3 separate regions of the Homo sapiens genome follow, and regions 1 and 3 are each linked to region 2. Evidence: fine-mapped expression QTL. A gene starts in region 2. Each other region holds a variant in brackets. All regions are shown on one strand. Distances are between the middles of the regions.

Region 1 (7,533 bases), 340 kb after region 2:
CCCCCAGGCTCAGCATCCAGAGGTGGAGTTGGGAGGGACTGGCTTCCTGCACCCATGACAGTGAGGAGGAATGGGGAGGGGCACCCGCCTCCAACAGCGTTAGTCCTCTCACTGCCCCCAGCCAGCCCTAGGAGGTCTCTAGTCTCTTGTACCCTGCGGTGCCCTCAGCTCTTACTGTCTCTGTTCCCCATTCCCTGTCCCCTGCTCCACCTTTCGACATTCCCCAGAGCCCCCCACTGACCCATCCTGGCATATCCAGGCTGCAGCTCTGTGCATGTCTGTACCTGCCTGTGTATTTGTACCTTTCCCGTCCCTGTGTCCCCTCCACCCCATATCCATGCCCATGTCCGTCCAAGAGCAGTCCAGAACGATGTGTGTGTGTGCGTGGACACACACATGCCCACGGAAGACATGTCACACAGACATCAGTTCACTTGCCTGAGACACACAGCCACACTGGGACACAGGCACACCGGAGTGCCACACTCATGCTGGGGGCCACCAAGGCTGACATGGCAGACACAGGCTGCGCAAGACTCAAGGTCACGTCATCTCAACAACCCCACAGTGCACACCCATCACAACACAGAATTACACATCTCAAGACTGGGACTTACTAACAACACAAATGCCTGACAAGACACACACAGGACCCCAAATGCCCAAAGAACACACTGTACGATGGAGACGGTGAACACAGCACCAAGATATCCATGTCCCCAGACACACAGGGTGACAGCATGTCAGTAGAGCAACTTCCCAAACCTGCACACAGAGGCACCCACATGTCAGCACTGACACCCCCGGCTCACTCAGCATCACGTCTCACATGCAGAGGGGAGTACTCCACTGTCCACATACCCCCAGGAGCTGGGCACCCCGAAATCTCATCTCCCATGCAGAAGGCCCCAAGCCCTGGGTCCAACTTCTGTGTTCACTCTTATGCCACATCCTCTGTCCCCTTCCCCCTCCTCAGAGACCCCAGACCCAGGCATGAAAATAGAAGGCAGAGTGAGTCCATAAAAAGCTGGCAGCAGTGCAGGAGAGAGGAGACTGCTGTGCGCCAGGGCAGGGGAGACCAGCATCGCCGTGTCCACTTGCTGTGTGATTACGGGCAGGTCCTTACCCTCTCTGGTTTAGAACTGCACAGGTGGAAGGCAAGGGGGCGCAGGGTCCCACCCAGGCTGCCTGGTGTAGAAAAGTGGGTGCTTGTGCCTCCCGGCCTGAAGGCCGGGGAGCTCCAGGCAGTCTCCTTGAGGGAGAATTTTTATCTCCATTCATTTTTGGGTCTTTCTCACCTCCCATGACAGGGCTGGATCCAGACTCCAGCTCTGACCCATTCCACACCCAGAACACATCCTACTGGGGAGGCAACTGTATCACAGACACACCCACAGGACCCCAAGGTGACAAGAGGACACCCAACCCGATACTCCATCTGTCCTCAAATGCACACCCTCAAATATGTTGTACCTATGAGGCACAGGCACAGCTAGAGAGAGGACCCCCAAACTCAGTAGGCAGACACACACATGTGACAGACAAACCCCCAGAATTCACTCATGTGCACATGGACCCTACGCTGAAAACCAGACACAGCCCCCAACACAGAGGCCCAGGGATGCATCCCCCCCACAGCCCCAAATGCACCAAGACAGCCATGCGGAACGCCACACAACCCGAGACAGACCGCAAGAAACAGGCAAAGGCTCCTCACCCCACTCAGGCAGAGGCACAGTCGGAGAGCTGGCAGACGCCCCCATCCCAAAATGCGGACACGCCCAGCCCAGAGACACTCAAGTAGCCTCAGATGTGCACGTACAAGCAAATACACAAGCTCACACAAAGACAGGCTGTGCAGACACATTCTCCCAGTGTGACCCCTTCTAGAAACACTGAAGTGTGACACAGGGACACACTGAAATGAGACCCCAAATAACCAAGGACAGAGTCTCTGTCTGTCTCTCACACACACACACACCCCTCCCGCTGCACATCAGCATGGTGTCTGACCAGCTTCACCGTCCACCAACCCCGGTTGCAAGCTGTCCTCTTTCCTGGGTCTCGGTCTGGCCGGGTCGTGCCTGCACGTACCCCTGACTGGGCAGTGCCGTCTGTCTACCTGTCCATCCGTGCCTGGCCTAGTGCCCCCTCCAGCCCAGTCCCTGCTCTCTTTTCCCCGCAGGTCCTGCGTGGGAGCAGGCTGAGACGTGCGTGGCAGGGATGCCCGGGCCTCGGGCCCCTCCGTCCTCACCCCTCACTCACTTCCGTACCCTCCCAGAAGACCCACCTATCCCCCCAGCACGCAGGGGGCAGGGGAATCTGGCTGCGAAGTTTTTAGCCAAGTTTCTCAGAAGGGGTTTGATTTGGGGGACTGACCAAGACTGAGAGAGAAGGACCCACGGACTAGAGTGAGACACGTGGAGACACGGAGAGAAGGGGGATGCGGCTCACTGGGGAAGCCTGAGGGGTGGGGGAAGGGGTGGGGGAGGTCCGGGCCAGTTACCGGGGGTCCAGAGAGCCGGCAGGGCGGGCGGGGCGAAGAGAAGGTCGGAGACGCAGCTACAGTCCATGGCGGAGCCGGCCCTGCAGAGGCCGGGAGGGACACACGGGGACGGGGTGGGCAGGAGAGACAGACACAGGTCAGCCAGCGGGGCGCTGCCCGGGGCCTTCCCCTCTCCCAGGTCCCCACCCCAGCCTGACACCCTCTCCCCGCAATCCCTCCTGCCCACTCCCTCCCGCAGGCACCGCTCTGTCCCCAGCCGTTCCCGGCCCCGAGACCCCGTTCCTTCCCTCCCAGCCTCTCCTCCCGCAGCCTCCTCCTCACTCGGTGCCTCCATCACTAACTACGCCGCTCCCAGCCTCCCTCCCCGCTCCCCGCCACTCGCTCACGCTCTCACACTCGCTGGCTCTCACGCCCGCCCGCCCGCCCGCCGCTCGCGCCCCGCACCGTCTCTGCTGCCGTCTCCCGTCCCCGCTCTCCCGCCTGACCTCCCGGGTCGGTCGGTCCCTGCGTCTCTGGGTCTCCCTCTGTCTCTCTCTCTGGCTGCCCCAGATTTATCTTGTTCTATAACTTGCCCCCACACCCGCCCCACCCGGACGACCCCCAGGCGGGCTCTTCCAGCCCAGGCGCAGCCCTGACCCGCAGCCGCCCAGGACGGGCTGCAGGGGGGCAGGCCCAGCACCCCCTCCTCCAGTCCTCTACCCCACAGGGCAGCCCCCAGCGCCCTGCAGGAGGCCTCCACAGACCCTAGACCTGCTGCTCACCCTGAAGACCCCTGTCACTTGGATCTGCCTCCCTCCTCAGACACCCCTTCCCCTCACATCTGCCTCCCCTGTCAGACCCCCTCCCTCAGACACTCCCTCTCCCTAGATATCTTACGCCCCTAAGATACTCCATCCCCTCCTCACTCCAGTCTCCCCGCACCTTTCCCCCTCTTATGGCGCCTCCCCTCCACACACACACCCTTGCAATCCACTCCCTCTCACACCCCTCCGCAGACACACGCTGCCCTCGCGCTCCCGAGACCCCTCCCCTCAGGCACTTCAGCCCCTCACTGCCACCCTCACACCCCACCTCTGGAGCACCTTCTTCCTGGAGACCCCCCAGACGCTCTCAAAAACCCACTCCTCTTAGACACCCTGATACTCCCCACTGCTCCCATGCGCCCCCCAGCCAGAAACCCCTCAGACCCTGGCAGCCCACACTGTGTTCCCCCGTGAGCCCCGCCTACCCCTGGACACTGGACAAAACTTTTCAGACACCCCATGTCCCCTCAGACTCGCCCGGTCTCCCCACAGAGGCCCCAACCTCAGATGCCCCCACCTCCCATCTGCCTCCTGGAGCCTCCCCTGTCCCAGGCCCCCTCTGTTCCCACACCTGTCTCCCCGTCTTTCTCCATCTGCCCCGTCTCGGTATCTCTCCCTCTCCATCTCTGTCTCTCCGGTCACTTGGTCTCTTCTCCCTTCCGTCTCCCCCCACCATCTCCCTTCCATTTCTGTCTCTCTCCTCCACCAAGGGGGTCTCTCTCCCCACCTCACTGCCCTCTCCCTCTCGTCTCCATCTCCTCCTCCACCCCTCAGTCTCTTCCCTGTTTCTCCATCTC[T/C]CACCCCTGCTTCTTCTCCATCTGTCTCTCCATCTTCCCAGTGTGTCCATCTCTGTCTCCCTATGACTTTCTCCCCATCTCTGCTATCCGTCTTTCCCTCCCCTTCCACCATCTCTGTCTCCGTCTCTCCCTCCCTTTCCACCATCTCTGTCTCTCCCTCCCCTTCCACCATCTCTGTCTCTGTCTCTCCCTCCCTTTCCACCATCTCTGTCTCTCCCTCCCCTTCCACCATCTCTGTCTCTCCCTCCCCTTCCACCATCTCTGTCTCTCCCTCCCCTTCCACCATCTCTGTCTCTCCCTCCCCTTCCACCGTCTCTGTCTCTCCCTCCCCTTCCACCGTCTCTGTCTCTCCCTCCCCCTCCACCGTGTCTCCCCCCCTTTCCACCGTCTCTGTCTCTCCCCCCCTCCACCATCTCTGTCTCTCCCTCCCCTCCATCATCTCTGTCTCTGTCTCTCCCTCCCCCTCCACCATCTCCGTCTCTGTCTCTCCCTCCTCTTCCACTATCTCTGTCTCTCCCTCCCTCCCCCTCCAGCATCTCTGTCTCTCCTGTCTCTGCCCCCACCGTGTCCCTGTCCCGCGTCTCTCCAGCAGCCCCGCTCCCCCACACCTCTCCCCCACCCATCGCTCTCCCACCTCCCGCTCTCTTTGCCTCTCAGGGTCCCCCTCCTTCCTCCCCCCGCCCCCACCCCCTATTGGCCCCTCTCATTTCCGTGTTGGTTTTGATTTCTCTTCCCGACGCTTTCAACTCCCCGCCGCCTCCTCCGGACACGTTATAACGAGGAGCCGTGGGATCGGCGCTCCGGGCCCTGCTCCCACGCTCCCCCCGCCGTGTCTCACACGCGTCTCTGCCATCTCGCAGTCTCTGTGCCCAGCCTTCGTCCTGTGTCAGGCCCCACAGGGACCTGGACCCCTCGCCCTTGCCCATCGCCTCTGCCGCCCTGTCCCCGTCCGTCTGTCCGTCCCTCCCATCTCTGGGTCTCCATGCCTCCCTGTCTCTTGGTTCCCACGTCGTCTCCACTTCTGTGTCCCCACGTCTCTGTGTCCCCATGTCTCTGGGTCTCCACATGGCTCTGTTTTAATGTCTAGGGTCTCCACACCCCTGTCTCCGTCTCCACATCTCCATATCTCCTCCTCCTCAAGTCCCTGTCCTGTCCCCATGTCCCCCATCTCTGTCTCATCTGTCTCTGTCTCCATGCCCCATCTCCCTGTCTCTGTGTCTCTGTCTCCATGTCTCCATCTCCATGTCTCTATGTCTCTGTCTCTGTTTCTGTCCCGGTGTCCGTCTCTTGGGGTCCCTTTGATCTCACCCTGCCCCTGGCGCCCCCCTGGCCCCATTGATCGCTGATCGACTGATGGAGGGAGCGCGGCCTGCGGGGCCTGGGGCTGCAGGGCCAAACAGGGCCTGGCAGGACGGCCGGACAGATGGACAAACGGCCCCAGCCCCAGTGGCTGTGGATGGGGAGCAGCCACAATCCCCCACCCCCCTCCCCCCCGCCGGCCGGCGTGGTGCGGATGGGTACTCCAGGCAAGCTTTAATTTTTAATTTTATTTTGCTTCCTCCACCCCCCCTTCGCCCCCCATCTCTACCGCCCGCAGCCATGGCACCGAATGTGTGTGCGCATGTGAGCGAAGCGGTGTGCAGAGGCGCTGGGCAGGCGAGGGCCCTCCTCCCTTCTCTCCCTGCCAAGCACAACCACACAGACCCACACACCAACCCAGGCACGCACACCACCACGTCCCACACAGCACACATCGCACAGATGCACACACCAGCACAGCCACACACACACCATCACATACCACACACTGCATGAGCCCACATGTCAACAAAGTCACACACAGCACCACGTCCCACACAACACATCACACACACCAACAAAGCAACGCATACCACTGCTGCCACACACAACCCACATCACACAGATGCATGTGTCAGTAAAGTCACACACCAACACTGTCACAGTCACACACACACACATCAGCATAGTCACAGATGCACAGAAACAGACACACAGTTTTACACAAATACACACATGACACATCAATTCAATCTCACACAGAAACAAAGACACAAAATCACAAATCCTAGACACACTGTGTAAACACATAATCACACACTGAGGCTCACAATCAAATACAGAAACCCAGATTCCCAAGCACACAATCGCACACTGAGACAACAGCACACAGAAACAGACACACAGTCACACAACCAAGCACCACCGACCCTCGAGCGCATACATATGCACTTGGTCACGCATGGAGCCGTAGAGATACACACACCAGCACCAACCCAGACAGCCAACGCACACGGCCACACACACACCCATTCACAGACACAGTCACAATCACACACACACACCAAGATCACGGACCCAAACATACGACCGACAGCGGCCCCTGCAGAGGTACACACAGACACACCCAGACACACTGGGTAGGGGTGGGCACTCAGAGATGACCCCAACCCAAGGCCCCTGCCACTCCTGCTCCCACCATCCCCATCTGTCTGCCTGTCCCTCCATCTGTGAACTTCCCAAGCATGTCTCTGCATGGGTGTGTGTGTGTGTGTGCACATATGTGACACGTGCCCTTGTCTCAGACCTGCTTCTGTGACTGCCTCTCGAGACACAGGTCTCTCGGTCTCTCTCAGCCCCTTCGGGTGTCGGCGCATCTTTCTGTCTGTCTCTGTCACTGAGGGTCTCTGTCTGTCTCTGTCAGAGAGGGTCTTTTCTGCTCATCTTGGCCTGCCTGTCTTTCTAAATATCTCCATCTCTGAGTGTCTCTGTTTCCCCCATCTCTCTCTCTGGGTGCATCTCTCTGTCTCTCTCTGTCTCTGTCCCTCTCTGTCTCTGAGCTCTCTGTCATCTCTCTCTGCCTCTGTCTCCTAACGCCCCATCACCACGCCCCCCTGGGCTGGGGTTTAACCAGTTGTTTTGATTTCTCTAAGCTGCGCCGGCCGCCTCGGGAGCCGCCTCGGGCCTCGCACCCCCACCACCAGCCCCTTCATCCCTCACCCAGGCCCCCCCATCCCCACCTCCCCTTAACACAATCTGCACAATCGGAATGAAAATTGATTTTTTTTTTAAATTTCATATCTTCTCCGGGGCTCTGTCTAAAGAGGAGAGAGACGCGGCCTAAGACCCTTCTGCCACCGCCGCCCCCGCATGCACACACCATGCCCCAAAGCACACGCACGCACGCACACACACACCCTGACTGCACCCACCCATGGCCACACGTTCAGGCACAATCTGGGGACATATCTCTCCTTACGCCACACGCCCATGTAGGACACATCTGTGCACACAGTAGAGACCCACAGTGACACCCACTAGTAGGCACACACACACCATGCACAGCCCCAGCCATGGGACGGCTGCCAGCCCCACCCATCTGTTGCCACACAAACGAGCCCCCAACACC
Region 2 (7,533 bases):
TGTAGACTTTTGTATTATTCTTTAAATAAGAATCTACTCTCCCCCAAAATGAATGCAATCAGTGTCTGGACAGTGTTGGGGTCTTACTCCTGGCCCCTGGGAGCTGGGAGCTGACAGTGCCCTGCTGCCCCAGCCCTGGGCCTTCTCTGAACCTCAAGAACACTGGATGGCCCCCATTTAGGGAGTAGAGAGGAGAGGTCTTTTAAACATCCTCACCAGTCACCTCTCCACCTTTCAGACCCTGGGCAGAATCTGTTGCCCACTCTTGGATTTGATCTTTAAGTTACTGACTTTAAAGCATTTTGACACTTTTTTTTTTTTTTGGTAGTCAGAAGCTTTCCACCTCCTTGGGAAAAGTGATTCTCTACTCTATGTACAGGAATAACCAGTAGAAATAGAGAAAAAATGCATTAATATTCAGAAAGAAGATGATCTCTATGTGAACAAATGAAAGCTTAAAATCATCAGAGTCAACATAAAATCAACATTGCCAGTGCTAAAACTACAAAAGTGACATTAACGGTGAACTAGAAGAATAAAACAAGCATTACAGTTGCTGGTAAACCTAAATCACTTATTTTTTTAAAAGACCATTCTGGTATATTGCAATGATGACAGGAGTGCCCTTCAGTCAATATGATGCCTGTAATTTTTGTGACCTGGCAAGATATACTGTCCCTTCTCCTTTTAAATCTCAAATGCAAAATGAGAGGCAACTCCTGGGTCACCCCCTCCCAGAGCAAACTGCCTGCAAGCAGCCCCTGGAAGAGCAGAGGCCCTAGTTTCCCTGATCCTCAAGGCAGGAGCGATGGGAAGCTCCCTGTAAGCCGGGGGAGAGCTTTGTTCCCAGAATGTTCCTCCTCTTCCCAGAGGCACCAACCCCGATGCCCTGACACTTACCTTCTGCTCTCTCGCCCAATGTTCACTCAAATATTGAGTGCTTGGTGAGTCTGCAGAGCTCAGGAACTTCTGGGAGCCAAATCACCACCAGCTCCTCCAGAAAAGATACCTGTGCACACCCAAAACCACCCCACTGAGCCCTGCCTGGGGTCTGTACCACATCCAGCATGTGCACTGTGAGCATAGAATCCGGCCCTGAATTCATGACCACCCACCAACATGCCCCCAACTGAAACCAGCAAATTCCCACACATGGCAAGCACTGAGGCTTGGAGGTGCTTTCTCACGAGGTGGTTCTGCTTCCACCATGGGGTGGTTGTCACTGACACTGGAAGTTGCTCAGCACCTGATAGTGGTGCAGGACTCAGGGACCCTCAACATCAATCTGGTGAAGGCAGATGGGGCCCCTCCAGATCTTCTCCCACCTGCAGGTGCCCAGCTCAGTAAGACCCCAACCCTGGGAGGAGGATCCAGACCCCTGTGCCAGGTAGACCAAGCTTGAGGCCTCAGGCAATGAGAGAGAAGGAGATGGAGGTCTGACCAGGAGCTGCTCTTCCTTGAGAGCCCGGGTCCCTTCCTTGTGCAAAGGCTTGGCTTATGAACAGAATCCTCAATCTGTAGTGACAGTGCCTAAGAGGATGACATGGACTCCGGCCTGATGTGCAGCCGTCCCTGTCTAACCCCTCCCTGCTGCAGGACAGCACCAGCCCAGGAGAGGAATCCTCAGTTGGGGAGCCAGTAAGAACATGGAATACTCGGGGCCTCTTACCTTCCTCCAGTCCACAGCAGCAGCCACCGTTTGTGCCTAGGACACCCACCTGCTGGCCCTTCTGACCCTTACAGTCAGGCCTTCCAGATGCCACTCCTGACTCAAGGCCCAGCTACTTTCACCCTGCTGAGCCCTGCTCCTCCCAACCAGGGTCACTGCCTTGCTAAGCACCTCCTCCAGCTCCAGCTGACTGGTCACCCAACACCCAAACCCCAGAGGACAAACAAGAAAATAAACAGATATGAAGTCTGAAGGAGATGCAGGCTATGAAGACAAATAAAAGAGTAAGCATGAATATAACTCCACCAACAAAATTGTTTCCCAAAACAAAATCTTCTGTGCCCATGATCATGGAACTAATTGTCCCTCACTATGTAGGCAAGCACTTCCAGGGTCTCTCAATTATTTCATGGGTGTCAATATACACTGTAACATAGCAACTCAGAAAAGAAAGTGGGAATAATTTATCTACTTAGATTAAGGTCCTAAAAAGGTCTCCAGACTGCCAAAAAAGGAGAGCTGAACCACTCCTGCTTTGAGAACCATTGAACTACATCTTTTTTAAAAGTCACCCCAGAATGGCCAAAACAATCTGGAAAAAAAAATTGGAGGACTCACTTCCTAATTTGAAAACTTACTAAAACACTACAATCATTAAAACAGTGTGCTTCTGGCACAAGAATGCACATAGAGATCAATGGAATAGAATCAAGAGTCCAGAAATAAACCCTCACCATTACAGCCCATTGGTTTTTGACATGGGTGCCAAGATTCCTCAATGGGGAAAGAATGGTAGCCTCTTCATATTGTGCTGGAACAACTGGATAACCACATGCGAGATAGTGTAGTTAGACCCCTACCTCACAGCCCATACAAAAGTTAACTCAAAATGTTTCAAAAACCTAAATGGAATAGCAAAACTTATCAAACCATTAGAAGAACATATAGGAGTAAAACTTAATGATCTTGGATTGGGCAATGGTTTCTTCAATATGACATCAAGAGCATAAGTAACAAAATTAAAAATAGATAAGTGAACTTCATCAAAGTTAAAAATGTTTGTGCTTCAAAGAACACCATGAAGAAAGTGAGAAGACACAGAATATGAGAAAAATTTTGCAAATCATGTACCCCATAAGGGACTTGTATCTAAAATATATAAAGAACTATTACAACTGAATAATAAAAAGATAACCCATTTTTTTTAAACAGCAAATGATTTGAATAAATAGTTCTCTAAAAAATATTAAAATTGTCAGCAAATACATGAAAAAATGCTCAACTTCATCAGCCACCAGGGAAATGAAAATCAAAACTGCAATGAGCTATCACTTCACACCTACTAGAATGGCTATAAGTTTTAAAAAATATTAAATAGTAAGTGTTTACAAGAATGTAGAGAAAATGGAACCCTCGTATATTGCTGATGGGAATATAAAATAGCACAGCAAACTGGAAAACAGTTTGGCTGTTTCTCAAAAACTTAAACATAGAACTACCACATGACCCCATATTTATACTCCTATATGTACCCCCAAAGAAATGAACACAGAAACCCAAACAGATACTTCCAAGTGTAAGTTCATTGCAGCGGTTTTCACAATAGCAAAAATGTGGAAACCACCCACATGTCCATTAAGAGATGAATGAATTAAAATTGAGGTATAAACATATATTGGGATATTACTCAGCCATAAATAGGAAAGAAGCTGTAATATATGCTACGACGTGGATGAATCTTAAAAGTGTTACCCTAAGAGAAATAATCCAGAAAAAAATAATACACGTATATAATTCCTTATTATATGAGACATGTAAACTAGGCAAATTCACAGAGATTGATAGTATCAGAGGCTACCAGTGGGTGGGGCAGGGGGAAGTGGGGAGTTATTGATTAAAAGTATGAAGTTTCCATTTGGTATAATGAAGATTTTCTGGTAAAAAATTATGGTGATGGTTGTACAACATTGTGAATAGAATTAGTATCATTTAATTCTACACTTAAAATTGCTAATTCAGTACATTTATCTTATGTATTATACCATATCTAAAGAGATCTTTGGGAAACAAACACTCGCCCTGATCAGATAGTCCTCATACTCATGTACACACCCTTCCTGACCTTCTGTAAAAAGGGATACAAAGATTTAGGGACATGAGACAGTTCAGGCAACTGCAGATCCACAAAATATATGTATTTGCAAAGAGAATGAGAGTTAAGCTGGGGGCACAGACCCCAGACACGGAGAGGGTCCCCCTGAAACCTTCACCAAGGACAGCAGAACCCAGAGCCTCCCACCTCCTTCCATCAAAGTCCTCTCTTCCCAGGACACACAGGACACCTCCCTCCACACCTAGGAGCTGGGGATCCTCCCGAGACCTCCAGGCCTGGGTCTCTGTCCCTGGGTCAGAGGCCAGGCTGGTGACACTGAAGATAGCGGGTGGGTCCTTCCCAGCCATCACCCAGTGAGCCCCTTTCTAGCCCCCAGAGCCACCTCTGTCACTTTCCTGCTGGGCATCATTCTGCCTTCCTGGAGCACTGGAGAGCATGAGGAGACCCAGGGCCCAGCTGGTTTTGTGTGTCACAAAGGGAAATAATCTACCGGCTGTGACAGAACCAAGGCCAGAACACAGCAGAGGTCAGTACTGGGGAGAGTGGGTCGTCCTGTTATGAGGACCCCATCAGCGTTGCTTCTCAAAGTTTTGCCTAGGGAACCAAATATAGGCAAAAAGGAAGGAGAAAGGAGGGACAAGGGAGGCAGGACTGAGAGGGGAGGGGACAGAGAGACATTGTAGGCAGAGCCCCGCCCTTGCCCATAAACGGGAAGTGCTCCTGCCTGAGAGGAAGCTCAGCATAGAGGAAGGAAGGACAGCAGAGACAACAGTCACAGTAACCCTGTCTAGAGCGTTCCTGGAGCCCAAGCTCCTCTCCACAGAGGAGGACAGAGCAGGCAGCAGAGACCATGGGGCCCCCCTCAGCTTGTCCCCACAGAGAATGCATCCCCTGGCAGGGGCTCTTGCTCACAGGTGAGGGGAGGACTCCCTGGGAGTGGGTGGGAGGAGGGAGCACAGAGACTGGCTGGGGTCTCCTGGGGAGGATGGGGCTCTGAGAGGAGACAGAGGGCTTTTGTTAGAGACTCAGGGGAGAGAGCGTCTAAGGAGAACCAAAAAATCTAAGTGAACTGGAATTGCCAAGGGGCAAAACAATCTCAGTTGGTCCATGTTTTCAAGTTCATTGTCAGTGGCCACTACACTTTGAAAATGATAGTAAAACTATATCACAGTGACAATTTAAATAAAAACACCACCAGGGCATGAAACTCTGTCTTCATCTGCCAACCTCAGACATTAGCAAATAAACCCCAGGATATGGAAGGCCCTGGGAACGCTCATGAACTCATCCACAGGAGTCTGCAGCCTGTCCCAGGCACTGGGGTGCAACTAACATCACTCAAGTCCATGCCCTCACAGAGCTCACAATCTCATGGGGGGGAAGACAGACACCCAAAGAGATCTAGAATGTGAGGTCAGGTGCTGACAAGAGCCCTGGAGGGAACAGAGCTGGGAAAGGTCAGAAAGGGAAGACCCAGGGTCTCTAGAGGAGGCTTCACGAAAGAAGTCTCCCAGGGATTCCCTTGTGTGAGTAGGAACTGAAGGCAGTGGGGAGGGAACCATGCAGACCCCTGGGAAAGAGGGTTCACACAAGGAAATGCCAAGGTCAGAGGTACTGAAGGAATGAGGGTCATGCTGCTGACTTTGACCCAGTAGGACACACACACACACACACACCCTCTAAGGCTGAGGGGTGAAGAGACCTGCACCCAGGACCCCGTCTTTCCATGCCAATGCATAGGTCAAATATTGACTGATATTCTCTCCCTTTCCTAGCCTCACTTTTAACTTTCTGGAACGCACCCACCACTGCCTGGCTCTTTATTGCATCAGCGCCCTTTGAAGTTGCTGAAGGGGAGAATGTTCATCTCTCTGTGGTTTATCTGCCCGAGAATCTTTACAGCTATGGCTGGTACAAAGGGAAAACGGTGGAGCCCAACCAGCTAATCGCAGCATATGTAATAGACACTCACGTTAGGACTCCAGGGCCTGCATACAGCGGTCGAGAGACAATATCACCCAGTGGAGATCTGCATTTCCAGAACGTCACCCTAGAGGACACGGGATACTACAACCTACAAGTCACATACAGAAATTCTCAGATTGAACAGGCATCTCACCATCTCCGTGTATACGGTGAGTGATTCCTCCGTGCCTCTGGGTGTTGGGGGTCAGTTCTGCTTCACATACGCAGGATTGTCAGGCCTGGGCTGTGCCTGCATCCCCCTCTGCATTACGTCCCATGTTGGGGTTTGGGCATTTAGTGCAGGACACACCCAGGGGAGACAAACTATAACAGATCAGAATTCCTTTCCCTTATCCGGACTCCGTGGAAATTCCCTACAGCAAGAAGGATAGTCTGATGCGGGAGATGCAGCGGGGGAAAATCAGTCTCAGTCCAACCCCCCTTGGCCTCCTCCTCATAGACATGACCTGAGAAAGATCTTATAGGACTCAGTCAGGGCCTGGCCTGAGGATCCTCTGAGAGAAGCTCAGCCCTTGAAGCCCCTGCCCCAGGCCCCTGTCCCAAGATCCTGACTCCAGATGACCCTGGGGAGCCTGTGCCAGGGCTGGGTTGTGGCTTCCTGGGCAGGGCTGATTGTGAGCAAGGATTTACCAGCTGTCCCAGGGCCGTGGTTCCTAGAGCTGGTCACCAGGCAGGGCTCAGCCCCCAGAGCCCCATCTGGGCAAGGGCAGAGCCTCATCTTTCACCTGAGAGTCAGAGTGGAGAGGACAGACAAACAAACTTCCCAGGCCATTAAACTGGATGGGAAACTTAAAAGATGTCCCGGGAAGTGCACTGTCCTCAGGAGGAGGGAAAGCAGAGAAAAGACACTCTGGACCGCTCCTTCTCCACCAGGAATCAGGCCCAGAGAACTCTTTTTTTTTTTTTTTGGAGTAAAATAATAATAGATGATGTTTATTTGGAGCTATTCTGTGCCAAGCTTTAGGTCAGGTAATTGTAAATATTTTAATGTTAATTTACAGAGAGGATGGCAAGCCAGGGACCATTGACATGTACCCCATTTTATTAAAGAGAAATTGCATCAGCATCACACAGGCTGTCAGTGCTCAACGTCACACCACCGTGTGTCTGCAGCCCAGAATCTGGTCGTGGCCACCACCGTGGGGCATCTGTGGACCCCAGGACCAGATGTTGGTTCAGCTCCTTTCTTCTTGGGCATCCTCAGCTCAGAGAGGGAGATTCTGGTCTGAGGAATGACGGGCAAATGGAGAATTAGTCAGTTTTTACTTAGAACGAAATCACCTGTCTCAACTATCAGACTCAATGCCAGGATTGTCCAAGCCTCTCCCATCAGATCCACATTCCTTCCCTCACTGGACGTGAAATCATGAATTTCTTGATTTGTTGATGTCACTCCCATGGGAGGATGAAGGAAAGGACTCAGCTTTCTCTTCCCACTACACCCTGTACCTGCACAAGGCCCAACTGAGACACACACTCAGTAGTTCTCTGATGAAGGAGGGAGGGAATTAATGAAAAAAGAAAGGAATAATCATAACCTCTTTACAGACTGGGTCCTGGATGTAGGATCCTAGGAGGAGCTGGCCACACCTCTTCCTTGTCCCTTAGGGGCTGAGACCCATGTTCCATTTCTCTGACTGCCTGCTCCTAAAGCCACCCCAGGTATTGCATCTCATGTGACTCTGGGGCCGCTCATCTGTGGGAGGGTTTTCAGGGCTCCCTGGTCCTGGTCTGAGGCAGCTGGGTCCTCCTGGTCCCTGGGGTC
Region 3 (7,296 bases), 150 kb before region 2:
CCTGCAGCGGTGGGGGCGGCGTACGCAGCCAAGCGGGCCAATGCCAACAGGGTCGTCATCTGTTACTTCGGCGAGGGGGCAGCCAGTGAGGGGGACGCCCATGCCGGCTTCAACTTCGCTGCCACACTTGAGTGCCCCATCATCTTCTTCTGCCGGAACAATGGCTACGCCATCTCCACGCCCACCTCTGAGCAGTATCGCGGCGATGGCATTGGTATGGGCTCTGCTGGCTGCTCCCCACCCCGCTGGGATCATCTCCTTCCCTCCCCAATCCTGCCACCTTCCTGCCACCCCTACCCTCCTTCCTGGTTCTCGTCCTGTGTCCTGTGGCGTCTGGCACTTGGTCAGCCACAGGAGTTGAGGTCCTGAGCACTCAGCCTTGCTCTCTGTCCTCTCCCTGCTCGTCCCCTTGGCCTCGTGCATGTTCCTTATCTCAGCCCTGGCCTGACCTGCCTTCTCTGTGTCCCCACAGCAGCACGAGGCCCCGGGTATGGCATCATGTCAATCCGCGTGGATGGTAATGATGTGTTTGCCGTATACAACGCCACAAAGGAGGCCCGACGGCGGGCTGTGGCAGAGAACCAGCCCTTCCTCATCGAGGCCATGACCTACAGGTGCCTGCCGCTCCCCCCGTCAGCACCCCCACAGCACTGACAGCCACCGTAGCATCTTCCTCATATCGATCACTGTCTCCAAAACATGGCCTTATCACCTGATGTTGCATCTCCCCCTTGCCTTTATTCCGTTTCCACTCCTCCTTCCCTAGTTCATCCCCCATCCTCCCTCCTGACCCCCACTCCAGGGAGCCCACACTGACCTGGGGCCCCTTGCCCCTGTGCAGGATCGGGCACCACAGCACCAGTGACGACAGTTCAGCGTACCGCTCGGTGGATGAGGTCAATTACTGGGATAAACAGGACCACCCCATCTCCCGGCTGCGGCACTATCTGCTGAGCCAAGGCTGGTGGGATGAGGAGCAGGAGAAGGCCTGGAGGAAGCAGTCCCGCAGGAAGGTGAGGGTGCCCCGCCCGGGAGGGTGTGCTGGGGGCTGCTGCGGCCTGCAGAGCTTGGGAAGGATTTGTGGAACACCGAACTGGGAGGCTCAGGGATAACCCCAGTGATGTCTCAGATGTGGCCTGTGGAGCCAGGCTGCTGGGGCCATGTGTGTCCTGGCTCTGTGTCCTTGGCATGTTGCCCTCCACTTCCTTGTCTTTGAAAGGGGATGCTGGTGGTGCCCATTTCAGAAACTGGTTTGAGACTGGGCATGGTGGCTCACACCTGTAATCCCAGCACTTTGGGAGGCCGAGGTGGCAGATCACTTGAGGTCAGGAGCTTGAGAACAGCCTGGCCAAACATGGTCAAGCCCTGTCTCTACTAAAAATACAAAAATTAGGGCTGGGCGCAGTGGCTCACGCCTGTAATCCCAGCACTTTGGGAGGCCAAGGCGGACAGATCACCTGAGGTCGGGAGTTTGAGACCAGCCTGGCCAACATGGTGAAACCTCGTCTCTAATAAAAATACAAAAATTAGCCGGGCATGGTGCCGGGTGCCTGTAATCCCAGCTACTTGGGAGGCCGAGGCAGGAGAATTGCTTGAACCTGGGAGGTAGAGGTTGCAGTGAGCTGAGATCGTACCATTGCACTCCAGCCTGGGCAACGAGAGCAAGACTCCATCTCAAAAAAAAAAATTAGCCAGGCGTGGTGGTGCGTGCCTGTAGTCCCAGCTACTCAGGAAGGTGAGGCAGAAGAATCGCTTGAACCCGGGAGGTGGAACTTGCAGTGATTGGAGATGGCGCCACTGCACTCCAGCCTGGGCAACAGAGCAAGACTATCTCTTAAAAAAAAAAAAAAGCTGGTTTGAGGATTAGGTGGCAAACCGTGGTGGAGTGTACATGCCCTGCCCAGAGTCAGTGTGCCACCCTCCCTGGCCCGGTCATTAGGACCCAGGGCCCGTGCAGCCCAGTGGTGAGGGCAGCACCCGGCATAGGGCAGCACCGTGTGTCCTGTCCCTGCCCTTCTCTGTGCCTCAGTTTCCTCATTGCTTAGCTGTCTACCTCTTAGGGCTGCTGAAAGCCTTAAATGATTCCACACACTTGGATAGCACCTGATCCCTGCTGGGATTTGAGGGTTTTCATTACACTTCTGCTAGGATAATCATTTCCATTGTCGAGGTGGGAACACAAAGGCTTGGAGTGGTTAATTCCTTGCCAAGGCCCCGCAGGAGGAAGCAGGGTCCTGCATGGGAGGCCGGCTAGCCTGCCCACTGCCCCATGTCCCCACAGGTGATGGAGGCCTTTGAGCAGGCCGAGCGGAAGCCCAAACCCAACCCCAACCTACTCTTCTCAGACGTGTATCAGGAGATGCCCGCCCAGCTCCGCAAGCAGCAGGAGTCTCTGGCCCGCCACCTGCAGACCTACGGGGAGCACTACCCACTGGATCACTTCGATAAGTGAGACCTGCTCAGCCCACCCCCACCCATCCTCAGCTACCCCGAGAGGTAGCCCCACTCTAAGGGGAGCAGGGGGACCTGACAGCACACCACTGTCTTCCCCAGTCAGCTCCCTCTAAAATACTCAG[C/T]GGCCAGGGCGGCTGCCACTCTTCACCCCTGCTCCTCCCGGCTGTTACATTGTCAGGGGACAGCATCTGCAGCAGTTGCTGAGGCTCCGTCAGCCCCCTCTTCACCTGTTGTTACAGTGCCTTCTCCCAGGGGCTGGGTGAGGGCACATTCAGGACTAGAAGCCCCTCTGGGCATGGGGTGGACATGGCAGGTCAGCCTGTGGAACTTGCGCAGGTGCGAGTGGCCAGCAGAGGTCACGAATAAACTGCATCTCTGCGCCTGGCTCTCTACCACCTCTGGTCTTTGTTTCCTGGAGTTTGGGGGTGATTTGAGGCCACCCCCAGCTTCTCCACCTTAGATAAATAAGGTCAAGGCTCTTGAGATACCTACTTCCCCCGGAAGCTTGCGCAAGCTGGAAGGTTAACTTCAGCAGACAGGATGGGGGTGGGGGGGTCCTCCAGAGATGGTCTCCTGCTCTCTCACAGAATGGGAGAAGCCTGCTGTCCAGCAGAGTGATGGGGAGCCCAGTGGAGCTAGCCCTGCCCAGCAGGGGTGCAGGGGAGCGTCCAGGATGAAGGTCAGGGTGTGGCCAAGCCCTGCTCCCCACCACTCCAGGGCCCCACAGATGCAAAAACAACCCCAGGCCTCAGAGTGGGGAGTGCATGTTTTTCAAAAACAAAAAGTAGGCAAAAACAGTCCACCACCCCATCTTTCCTGCCCAGGCCCCTGGCTGGGGGAGGCCAAGGAGTGGCTTAAGTTGTCCAGCTTCTGGGCCCTCCTCCCTCCCATCAAGACCTGGAAGGAGGGGCTGAGCCAGGGGCCGGCCCCAGAGGCCCAGGCCAGGTCAGCACCTCCGCCCTCCCCAATGAGAGTCAGCACTGGAGCCTTGGGTCTTGCAGTTGTTTCCAGAGCCGAATGCTGGCCTGGGGGCCCAGGGGCCGTACCAGCAGCAGGTTGCGGAAAGCACAGTGGTCCGCAGTGCGGTCTGCTGGCCAGGCTGTGAGGAAGCCTGGGTGGGCCTGGGGCACCAGGCCCAGGGCTCGGATGCAAAGGCCAGTGTAGACGTCCTCAAAGGGGAAGGGTGCCACACGGGCTGCCGCCCGCAGCAGCCAGGGTGCCAGGCGCCCGGCAATGACGTAGCCACCCCCGCTTGCATAGGCTGGGTAGCCACCTTCGAAGAAGGACTCGGGCACATAGAAGGGTCCTCCTGGCTTCCGGAGAGGCATGGCCTGGGTAAAGACCTCACCCAGGTAGAGGCTTCGGGCCGAGGCAGGTGGCAGGGCCCGCAGGTGAGCCAGCAGGGCAGGGGTGTGTACAAAGGCATCGTCCTGAGCTCGCAAGACAAAACTCACGGTGGGGCAGTGGCGGCCCAGCCAGGCCAGCAGCAGCAGGTCTTTGAGCGTCTGGTTGAATGGGACGTCGAGGAAGTCCCAGAGCAGCAGGTCACTGTAGCGACGGCTCTCCCAGGCCACTAGTGAGTCTAGGTCAGGCCCCGCCTCACCCACCGGAGACCCTAGCAGGAAGAGCAGCCGGATCCCTGGAGCTGGACTGCCCCACGTCTCTCTCACGGCCTGTCGTTCTGCAAAGCGCCCTGGTTCTGACTTGACGGCCAACAGCAGGTAGGGGACATCAGTATCTGAGCAGCTGGAGACTTGGCTGCCACCACCTCCAGGCAGCCACTGTGGGAAGCTCCGGCAGGCTGCTGACAGCAAGAAGCGGCGGAGGTCCTTGGGGTAGGAGGCGAAGTCAGGGATCTCGGTGGCGGCGGCGGCCCCCCAAGCCTGGCAGCCCCCCGTTTCAGTGCTGTCCCCACTGGGCAGGGACCCCAGCCGCCACTGCTGCTGGTTCCAGTAAGCAAAGGGCAGCGGGATAGTCTGGCCCAGGCGGGTGGAGAGGTTGGCAGGTAGGGTGGGCTCAGGGTTGGCTGGCGTGGGGCTTGGCGGGGTGCCCCGAGGGCTGGGGTAGGCCTTGCTGAGCCGGGACTCGGATGTCCACTCGATGTACACTTTGAGGCCCAGGAGTGTGAGCAGTGCTGACAGGCAGAGAAGGCACTTGGGGCAGCGCATGACCCGGCCCAGGGAAGGGGCGGCCGCGGGAGCTACAAGGGAGCCACAGGGGAGCCACGGAGGCCATTGGGGTGTGGGGATGGGCCTCCAGAGAGGGCCCAGCCAGGCCCCAGGCAGACAGCTTCACAATCTCCCATAGTCCCCGCCAACCCCCATAACAGATTCTCTCGGTCCCAGATCCTAAACAGCTCCCCTGACCCAGGGACCTCGTTGGTCCTTATTCCTAGACCTAGGAGTCCCCCATTCCAATCCCGTACCAGCACCCTGTTCTTCCCACTCCGTCCAAATGCTTCCACCTTCCTAAAAGCCCAAGGGTCTACCTCTTCCCTGTCTCCATCCAGGACAAGGGACCTTGCCGTCTATCTCCTCCCTCTCCCTCCATTTATTGCCCTCACCAGGAAATCAGGAGCGGGATTCCTAGCTCCCTGGGGTTAGAAACCCAGCCTGCCTCCCGCAACACCCCAACCCCAGGGACTGGGGAACCAGGGATCCCATGCTTTTTTACCTCTGGGTCTGGCTCCCGCCAGCTCCGGGTGCCGGCCTCAGGTCAGGCCTCCCTCAGCTCCCTCTGATCTGCCTGCCCCAGCCCCTGTGTTGTCGACCGGCGGGGCCCAGCCCTGCCCAGCCAGTCCAGAGGGGCGGGGAGGGGAGTGGAGCGGGAGCAGGGAGGGCCCCAGGGGCCGGGGCGGGGCTGAGGCAGGAGAGAGGGAGGGAGGGAGGGAGGGAGGAGGGCAGGAGGCCGACCTGAGAGATGGGGCTCTGGCGTGTTAGGGCTGGTTTCTGGTGAGACAGCTGGGAAGGGTGCAGGGGGCAGCCACAGAAACAAGACGGGGGCTTTGTGAGGCCTGGGAGGGGAGAACCAGGGCCAGGGGGTGCCAGGGAGGGTGGGGCTGAAGGCTGGGCCTGGGCTGGGGAGTGTTAGAGTGACCAGGGCGAGGCAGGGTCCCACTGAGGCAGAGATGGGGAGGCTGAGAGGCTGGCGCCCGGCTGCACCCATGGCCAGGAGGCGGCAGTGAATGTGCTGAGTGGGAAGGGATCGGCGGGCCTGCCAGAGGGATGTTTGTTGTTGCTGCCCAGTCAGGGTGAGGTGGGGGGAACGGGGCTGGTGAGGAGAAGGAGAGACAGAGACATTGTGGAGAGGGAAGAGACGGCCAGGGAGCAGAGAGAGGAGAACTGGGGTGAGACAGGCGATGGAGAGAGCTGAGGGGGAGAGAGAGAGAAGACGGGCAAGTGGGAAGGTGGCCAGGAGGGAGAGGGGGAGGGAAATGGAGATGGCGAGAAAGATAAGGGGTTGCGGAAGCCCTGTGGGGTGCTCATGGGGAAAGAGAGGTTGAGAGAGGCAGGTGGAGGGCAGAGGGGAGGGACTCAGGCTTCCGAGCCAGACCCAGGCAGAGGCGGAGAGGGAGCCAAGGGGAAGAACAGGAGAGGAAAAGACTGGAGCTTCAAGGGCAATAGAGGGTGACGGGGTGGGGCCCACGGGGAACCCCGGGAGCTAAGCTGATCCCCTGTACCTCCTCCATCCCTCTCGGCACCCGGGCTGCCTGCCCAGCAGCGTGGGAATCTGTTCCTACCTTACCCCCAACCTCCGGCCTGGAGCCAGCCTCACCCCGGGCCCCTCCCCTCCCCCAGCGGCACTGTGACTCCAGGAACACTCACATCCAGCCCCTTGGGGCAGGAGGGGGTGTCTGCCTGTGTTTGCATCCCTGCCCTCCAGGGGCCCCTGCTGTTGGGACTGCATCAGCTCTCTGAAGACCTCCCAAGACATGGGGTAAGACTAAGGGGCTCCCACTAAGCCTGGGCTGACCCCTTCACTCCACCCTGGTTTGGGGCAGGCCTGTCCCCATCATGGCAGGAACACAGTCTGTCAGCAGCAGCAGTTGATGATCTGTCCAGCCCTGATTTCCTCCCCCAAAGTTTGAATAATGGAGCCTGTGGGAACAGCTGGAGGAAGAGAGTGGGGAGGAAGTGGTGAATATTAATGGAATAATAGTTGGAGTGGGAAATGACAGCTAGGGGCTGGGGGCAGGGGCCCGAGCACCTCCTGAGGGAGTCTGCAAGCCCACTCCACTCTGGGGCTGGGGGAGAGGGACTCCAGGCCCCCTGAGCTCATCTAGCTTCTGGGGGCAGGGGGTGCTGCTCCTCCTGGAAGCATTAGGAAGCTTCACAAGGTGCCTTTCTTTTTGCCTTTGCCATGTGCCTCAGTCCGGGTCCAATCAGGAGAGAGAAACCACACAGGAATGGGAATAGGGAAAGTTCAATATACAGAATGATTAACTCTCATGGGATTGGCCACTAAGGGGTGCCTTCTTGGGGAACATGGTTGGAGGGTGGACATGCTGGTGGAACACGATCATTCCAATCCAACACTTCTGTCTCCCCAAGCCTTGGGACTCCCCTCACCCATCTTATGCTAGGGCAGTTCTGGTCTCTCTGCCTCATTAACTTTAGGCCACTGTTGGATCCAAGTTCCGGTTAGGCACCCAAGCAAGCTATTAGAACTACGTCCAGCTGCACAAGGTAACCCATGAAATCCAGAAGCTCTAGAAAGCGCACTCATGCCAGTAAATTTGGCCTGAGCTAGTGTTACATCCACCCTCATTGGTGTAACATCCTTAAAATCCCCTTCTGCACACATTCCCCAAGTTTCTGACTCTGTATATTTGCGAAGCCTTGT

The links. PIP is the estimated chance that this variant, and not a neighbour inherited with it, causes the effect.
Region 1: its variant is fine-mapped to the expression of CEACAM21 in whole blood (TOPMed, PIP above 0.99).
Region 3: its variant is fine-mapped to the expression of CEACAM21 in whole blood (INTERVAL, PIP above 0.99).

The regions. Positions count from the first base shown.
Region 1 is chr19:41,910,347-41,917,879 of GRCh38, forward strand. ERFL (ETS repressor factor like) reads right to left here. Exons shown (of 6, transcript NM_001365103.2): 2 at 2,507-2,586. The coding sequence starts at 2,573. It also overlaps a transcript of ARHGEF1 not described here. Among named protein-coding and RNA genes, the nearest start is that of ERFL, 14 kb to the right of the region's middle. The variant T/C (reference allele first, on the strand shown) is at 4,107.
Region 2 is chr19:41,571,643-41,579,175 of GRCh38, forward strand. CEACAM21 (CEA cell adhesion molecule 21) reads left to right here and starts at 4,524. Exons shown (of 7, transcript NM_001098506.4): 1 at 4,524-4,696; 2 at 5,558-5,917. The coding sequence starts at 4,633.
Region 3 is chr19:41,422,157-41,429,452 of GRCh38, forward strand. BCKDHA (branched chain keto acid dehydrogenase E1 subunit alpha) reads left to right here. Exons shown (of 9, transcript NM_000709.4): 6 at 8-214; 7 at 473-614; 8 at 842-1,013; 9 at 2,282-2,846. The coding sequence ends at 2,452. It overlaps B3GNT8 (UDP-GlcNAc:betaGal beta-1,3-N-acetylglucosaminyltransferase 8), which reads right to left and starts at 5,218. Exons shown (of 2, transcript NM_001385648.2): 1 at 5,128-5,218; 2 at 3,203-4,654. The coding sequence starts at 4,622. The coding sequence ends at 3,429. RefSeq lists silencers at 5,259-5,368, 5,389-5,538. The variant C/T (reference allele first, on the strand shown) is at 2,577.